Linked DNA regions of Homo sapiens. The protein of the gene in region 1 purifies or fractionates together with the protein of each later gene. This does not show direct contact. Each region holds a gene or a part of one and is shown on either strand. Other genes may lie near its edges.

Evidence for each region.
Region 2: the proteins of ZNF30 (region 1) and SPAST purify together in Homo sapiens (affinity purification with mass spectrometry; one large-scale study listed by BioGRID and IntAct). This does not show direct contact.

Annotation. Positions count from the first base shown.
Region 1 is NC_000019.10:34,925,151-34,929,071, forward strand, and holds the start of ZNF30 (zinc finger protein 30), read left to right. Parts: upstream 1-1,752; 5' UTR 1,753-2,066; exon of another isoform or gene 2,067-2,569; intron 2,570-3,921. UniProt on the Homo sapiens protein: May be involved in transcriptional regulation.
Region 2 is NC_000002.12:32,069,905-32,073,725, forward strand, and holds part of SPAST (spastin), read left to right. Parts: intron 1-3,821. UniProt on the Homo sapiens protein: ATP-dependent microtubule severing protein that specifically recognizes and cuts microtubules that are polyglutamylated.

The DNA.
Region 1 (3,921 bases):
GTGAATGTTTATAGCTGAAGCCCCAGTGGGCGTGTTACAGGATGCTCTTTAGCTGTCCGCAGGCGGCTTATGTTAGTCAATTCAATTAGATCCCTGCGTTATCGCAAGGACAGAGGGCTTTCATATCCCGGGGTTCCTGTCTTGGTGTACCAGAAGAATCAGATCACACATGGGCTTGGAGGATGACTGCAGGGTTTTGAGTGGAAGTAGCTCTCAACAGTTGGGGGAGCCAGAAGGGAAATGGTTTTCCCCTGGAATCGGGCTGCTCCGCAGCACCGGCTCTCCTTGGACTGCCCCAGCCAAACTCCGCGTCCTTCTGGTGGGTGGCCTGCCCGCGTGCCAGCGTCTGTCATGTCTTCTTCCGCCAACATGTTCCTCTGGATGTCCAGCGGCTTGTGTGTCTGCTTGCTAGGGTCTCAGAGTATTTATAGGGACAGGATGGGGGCGGGAACAGGATGGGGGCGTGGCAGGCCAGGGTGGTCTTGGGAAACGCAACATTTGGGCAGGAAAACAAAAATGCCTGCCCTCACCTAGGTCAGTTGGCACAGGGCCAGGGGTGGAGCCCTAGCCAGGGACCACACCCTCCTGTACCCAGCACCTCCCTTTCCCCCTTCCATATCATTTAAAGGGACCCCGCCCTTCCCTCCCCAGCACTCCCCTTCCCCACCTCCTTATCAATGTCATCACCCTGGACTGACTCCAGGAATCACTGTAATGTGGGCTTAATAAGAACAGAGCTCGGCTGGCCGCGGTGGCTCACCCTGTCATCCCAGCACTTTGGGAGGCTGAGGCGGGTGGATCGCTTGAGCCCAGGAGTTCGAGACTAGCCTGGGCAAGATGGCAAAACCCCATTTCTACAAAAAATATACAAAAATTAGCCAGGTGTAGTGGCGCGCCCCTGTAGTCTCAGCTACTCTGGAGGCCGAGGTGGGAGAATCACTTGAACCTGGGAGGCAGAGGTTACAGTAAGCCGAGATAGCGCCACTGCATTCCAGTCTGAGCGACAGAGGGAGACCCTGTCTCAAAACAAAACAAAAACAAAACAAACAAAAAGCGGAGCTGACAGTCAAGGTGAATTTCACGTTTGCCTGTATTCAGTTTTAGCATTACATAAACCAAAAGAAGAATGCCATAAAGGCTACAGGCAGCTAATACAGAGAGGTGTTACTGGAAAAGGAACCAGAAAGAGTAAATATCTCCTAAACGTATGATGGGACAGAAAGATAAATGCCTATTACATATAGTTAATATCTGTTTGATTAGCCTTATTTACATTCTCCTTTTAAAAGGTCTTACATTTAGCATCTTAGATAGAACCCACAAAATTTAAATATTTAATAGAAACTTAAAATTCCTGTATCAGAGGACAGAAATATATTTTTCTCACACGTGATTAGTCTAATTGCCACTATTAATCCTATTAATATTCTGTTAAATAATAGCATTTCTGTAGCGAAAAGCAAACAGTACGGAAAGATAATTTCAAACACCTAGTTTTCATATTTTTGTGTTAAAGTAATAACATATTTTGGTATAGATTATCATTTTTTGTTTGTTTTTGTTTTTGCTTTTTCTGACCTGGTGTGTTAATGCCCTGGGTTGGCCCTCTAAGAAGCTGGCCACCTACTTCGGGCCTCAGGTGTCAGACGCCCCAGCTTCGAGGTCTATGGCTCCCAGCAACTCGAGCGCCTGCGCCTGCGCATTCTCAGCCGGACGGGAGCGCCCAGAAGTCTCCGGGCGCCGGTGGGCGGCCTTGTGGACTGCGCCGGGCATGCTCGGCGGTGTGACGGCTCAGGACTGCATTTCCCAGAGGCTGCAGCTATCCGGCCAATGTAGCCTGAAACTACATTTCTCAGCGGCCACTGGAACGACCTCAATCTCTGCCTCCTCGCCAGTTCATTGTGGTCGTTGACCCGGCAGCGAGCTTTGGAGTTCATCGAGGGAGAAGTCAGCGCCCAGCTCCGAGGTTGGAGCAGCCCCGCCGGGCAACTTGAATTTCTGCAAACGAACACAGCACCGGGAGCTCTGCAGACCTGTGTCGGCGCGGAACCCGGACTGAGACATGCGTGAGCGTTGGGTGGACCGGGCGAGGATCCCGGGCCGGCGAGTGCGGGAGCGGCAGGGCAGGGAGGGTGCGTCGGCCGGGGCCGGTGTGCATCCGCGAAGACTGGGTGCATGGCCTCCATGCGAACCTGAGCTATTAATATTTGTTACTATTTTGGATAAAATCACTGTAATTGATTTATGTAAAGGAGCAAAAGACTCTTCAACTCTCAGTTTAAAAAGGAAACGATAGTTATGATACCTTTTGCATGCAGCGGGAAGAAATGGGATTGCCAGGAAGCCTCTTCTTGTTTGGAAAAAACTGTATAAAGTATTTACACCTTTTAAAGATGAGAGCAATGTCATCTGAAAATTATCAGTGCAGGGAAAAGGACTTCAAAGGATCTGTTGTGCAGATTACTTAACTAATGACAAAATTATGTAAGAAAGGAGAGCAAGATGACAGCTGTAAACATTTCCATCAATCTCCATATTGCACAGAAATAGGACCCAGCTTTTTCTTAAGGTTCTTCAATTTTGCATTATCCCACAGCAGTAGCTCTCTCTCTCTAGCTGCTAGGGGACAGAGGAAATTGAAATGTCAGAGAATCTTTTCTGTTGGTTTTTTATTTGTTTGTTTTTAAAGAAGAGTTGCTCTTAATTTTTTAGTTAGAATTAAAAGAAAGCATGCCAGAGAAACTTACGTTTTAAGTAAAAAGTGGAAACAGGTCGGGTGCCATGGCTCATGCCTGTAATCCCAGCACTTTGGGAAGCTGAGGCGGGTGGATTGCCTGAGCTCAGGAGTTCGAGACCACCAACATGGCAACATGGTGAAACCCCGTCTCTACTAAAAATATAAAAATTAGCCAGGCATGGTGGCGTGCGCTTGTAGTCACAGCTACTTGAGAGGCGGAGGTGGGAGAAGTGCTTGAAGCTGGGAGGCGGCGGAGGTTGCAGTGAGTGGAGATGGCACCACCGCAATCCAGCCTGGGCGACAGAGCGAGATCCCTTCTCTAAAAAAAAAAAAATATATATATATATATATATATATATATATATATAGATAGATAGATAGATAGATACATAAATTAAATTAAGTGGAAACAAGTGTTTAATTAAAATGAAATAAAGGATGTATAATGTTTACGTAATAACTCCAATGCAGTAGTGCCCCCTTAATCGGCAGTTTCACTTTCTTCACTTTGTTACCCTCAGTCAACCATGATCTGAAAATAGGTGATTTTGGTACAATAAGATATTTTGAGAGAGAGGGGCCATGTTCACATAACTTTTATTACAGTATGCTATTATAGTTGTTCTATTTTATTATTAGTTATTGCTATTACTCAATTATGGTGGCCGGGTGCGGTGGCTCACGCCTGTAATCCCAGCACTTTGGGATACTGAGATGGGTGGATCAATTGAGGTCAGGAGTTCGAGACCAGCCTGGCCAACATGGTGAAACCCTGTCTCTAGTAAAAATACAAAAATTAGCCAGGCGTGGTGGTGGGCACCTGTAATCCCAGCTACTTGGGAGGCTCCCAGGAGGTGGAGGTTGCAGTGAGCCAAGATCACACCACTGCACTCCAGCCTGGGCAACAGAGTGAGACCCTGTCTCAAACAAACAAACAAACAGAAAAATAAAAATCTCTTATGGTGCCTAATTTATAAATTAAACTTAATCATAGGTGTGTATGTATAAGAAAAAACATAGTATATATGGGGTTCCGTCAGACATCTACTGAGGATCTTAGAGTGTATCTCCCCCCTGTGGATAAGAGGGAGCTACCATAGTAAGAGCTAACTCGGCTGCGCGCGGTGGCTCACGCCTGTAATCCCAGCACTTTGGGAGGCTGAGGCGGGCGGATCACGAAGTCA
Region 2 (3,821 bases), on another chromosome or scaffold:
AAATGGCATCAAACTGTAGTAGTGTTAATTGAAATATTTGGTACCTTGAAATGTTAAATGCCAAATTAAATCTCATTTTAATGAAATCTCGTGTAAATGTGTTTTATATGGTGACTATGTTTATTCTGAATTTTATTCTTATGGCATACTAAAAAAAAAAAAAATTTTTTTTTTTTTTTGTAATGGAGTCTTGCTCTGTCACCCACGCTGGAGTGCAGTGGCGCAATCTCGGTTCACTGTAACCTCCACCTCCCGGGTTCAAGCGATTCTCCTGCCTCAGTCTCCCGAGTAGCTGGTACTACAGGCGTGCACCACTATGCCTGGCTAATATTTTTGTATTTTTAGGAGAGACAGGGTTTCACCATGTTGGTCAGGCTGATCTCGAACTCCTGACCTGAAGTGATCCGCCTGCCTCAGCCTCCCAAAGTGCTGGGATTACAGGTATGACCCACTGCACCCAACCCATACTCAAATTTGACACTGAATTTTCATAAAGGCCTTAATTTATCTGAAACCAAACTATTTCAAAAGAGGAATAGCACAGCAAATTCTGTTGACTTAATGAGAGGATATGTGAAGTCTATTTATTAAAGCAAATATTAATTGGAGGCCAGTTAATTTGTACAGCTCTGCATTTTAGATATTTGAGAAATATTTATTTCCTCTCCAGTGAGATGTGTTAAAACATTAGTTATGTGATTAACAAATATGTGTACATACGTATATATGTACATACACATTTTGAGACAGGGCCTTGGTCTGTTGTTCAGGCTGGAGTGCAATGACACCATCTTAGCTCATTGAAGCTTCAGCCTCGCAGGCTCAATCGATCCACCCACCTCAGCCTCCCTAGTAGCTGGGTCTACAGACATATACCACCATGCTTGGCTGATTTTTTAATTTTTTGTAGAGATGGTGATCTTGCCCTGTTGACTAAGTTGGTAAATATTTTAATTGTTGAACTTTCTTGGAAGACTGAAAACCTGTGATAGCCATTTTATATAAGGAGAAGCTGAAGTTCAAAGAGTAGACTCATAGCAGAAACAAAAATAGAATTTAAGTGAATGGACTCAAAATATTGTACTTTTTACTTTATACTGCAGGTTTTTATGTTGTAATGCTGGTAATGAGCTCCTTGGAATATTTGGAGGAAAAGAGAAGGTTGTAATAATGGTTCTTTGGATTTACTAGAACATATCATGTTCTGCATGGCTCCTGTGGGTAGACAAGCCGGAAATCTCCTGGGTAACACAATGGTGGAGGTTCTCTAGGTGACGTTTGATTTCTCAAGTACATAGGACTAAACAGAAAAGGCCTAGTATGTTATATGAATGAGAGATCAAGTTTCTCAGGATATTCTAGGGCTAAAGGATCAGGCATCGAAGACAGAAATTGTCTAAATAAAATTTTTTCTATTCATAGTTTTAAAGGGCTAAAGGGTCAGGCATTGAAGACAGAAATTGTCTAAGTAAAATATTTTTCTGTTCATAGTTTTAAGCTGTGTATATGTGCATGTGTGTATTTAAAATAACTTCGTCAATGAAAAGAGTCAAACTCTGTAAAATATTTGAAGAGATTTATTCTGAGCCAAATATGAGTGACCAGTGGCCCATGACACAGCCCCAGTAGATACTAAGAACATCTGTCCAAGGTGGTCAGGCTATAGCTTGATTTTATACACTTTAGGGAGACATAAGACGTCAGTTAAACATGTAAGATGTACATTGGTTCCATCTGGAAAGGCAGGAAAACTAGAAGTTGGGGAGGCTTCCAGGTCGTAGGCAGATTCAAAGATTTTCTGATTGGCAATTGGTCAAAAGAGCTTATCTAAAGTCCTGGAATCCATAGAAGGGAGTGTCTGGTTTAAAATAATAGGTTGTAGCTACCAAGGTTTTTATTGTACAGATGAAGCCTCCAGGTAGCAGGCTTCAGAGAGAATACATTGTAAATGTTTCTTATGAGACTTTAAAAGGTGGCAGACTCTTAAGTTAATTTTCTCCTGGTTCAGGTAAAAGACTTGGAAAGGGAAAGGATTCTCTACAGAACGTAAATTTTCCCCACAAGAGAAAGCTTTGCAGGGCCATTTCAGAATATGTCAAAGAAATATAATTTAGGGTAAAATACTTCAATTTGTTTTATTTATTTATTTATTTTTTGAGACAGAGTCTCGCTCTGTTGCCCAGGCTGGAGTGCAGTGGCATGATCTCGGCTCACTGCAAGCTCCGCCTCCTGTGTTCACGCCGTTCTCCTGCCTCAGCCTCCTGAGTAGCTGGGACTACAGGCGCTGGCCACCATGCCCAGCTATTTTTTTTGTATTTTTAGTAGAGACGGGATTTCACCATGTTGGCCAGGATGGTCTCGATCTCTTGACCTCGTGATTCACCCGCCTCGGCCTCCCAAAGTGCTGGGATTACAGGCGTGAGCCACTGTGCCCGGCCTCAAAATACTTCAATTTCTTTCATGGCCTGCTATCTGACGTGATGCTGTACTAGAGTCAGGCTGGGAATTTGGCGTCTTATTGCTACAAAACATCTTAATATCTCTGTTTTAATGTTAATGCTGATCAGTTGTCCCTGAATTCCAAAGGGAAGAGGGTATATGAGTCATGTCCAACCCCCACTTCTCATTATGGCCTGAACTAGTTTTTTAGGTTAACTTTGGAATGCCTTTGGCAAGGGGAGGGTCCATGAGTCAGTTGGGGGTCTTAGAGTTTTATTTTTTGCTTACCGGTTTATAAAAAGTTAATGAAAATTATCATATTTCATAATTCTATATAATTCAATATTGTACTTTATTTAAAACTCACGTATAAAATAGCTGTCCATATCTGTTTTCAGAAGATGAGGATGGAGGGTAGAAATCAGAAGTGTCAGATTTGGTAATTTTCTTACACTGCTGAAAACCTATACCTACCACTTTGAAAGGATTAATTTCAGACTTGCTTTCTTTGGGCCTAATGATTCTACTTTGAAGTTTCTCTGATTAAACTAAGGAATAAATCTGATAAATGGACATTCAGATGATACCATACTTTTCCAAAAGATAACATTGCTTTTGATTACATATGCAATAAACATTTCACATTTTTTCTCAAGATTATTTACTGGCATCTGCACCAAAGACACAAAAAAGCAGCCACTGTTAAGGACTTTATCCCTTGTTCTGTTTTTAGCTGGTTTGTTGTTGTATTTTTCCTCATGTTGAATACAGTTAAACCCTATTAAACTGGATTCCCCATATTACTGTTAGTTGTCCTGATGACAATTAAGGATAGTTAGTAAATGGATATTGAATCATTTTATTTTTTTAGTAGTGATGGCGTTTCGCTGTGTTGGCCAGGTTGGTCTCGAACTCCTGGCCTCAAGTGATCTGCCTGTGTTGGCCCCTCAAAGTGTTAGGATTACAGGCGTGAGCCACTGCACCTGGCTGGATATTGAATTATTGAAGAAGGATGTTCCCTAACACTTCCTGCCTCTTTTCCGCTGTCTTACTCTCTCTGTTCCACCCAGTAGTAGTTGGGTTTTTGATGTCTGGCAAAGTATAGATTGTCTACTCTTCTATATTAGTTTTCTTCACTCTTTTTTTTAAAAATGTTTTTAAAGCAAGATAGAGACAGGGTCTTGCCGTATTGCCCAGGCTGGTCTTGAACTCCTGAGCTCAAGCAATCCTCCCACCTCACCCCATAAAGTGCGGAGATTACAGGCATGAGCCACCATGCCTGGCCAGTTTTCTTCACTCTTGACCTATAATAGTCCTGCAAAGCCAGTGAAGCTGTTAATATGCTGACGTAGCCTTTTTTTCTCTCGTTTGTGAATTATTAA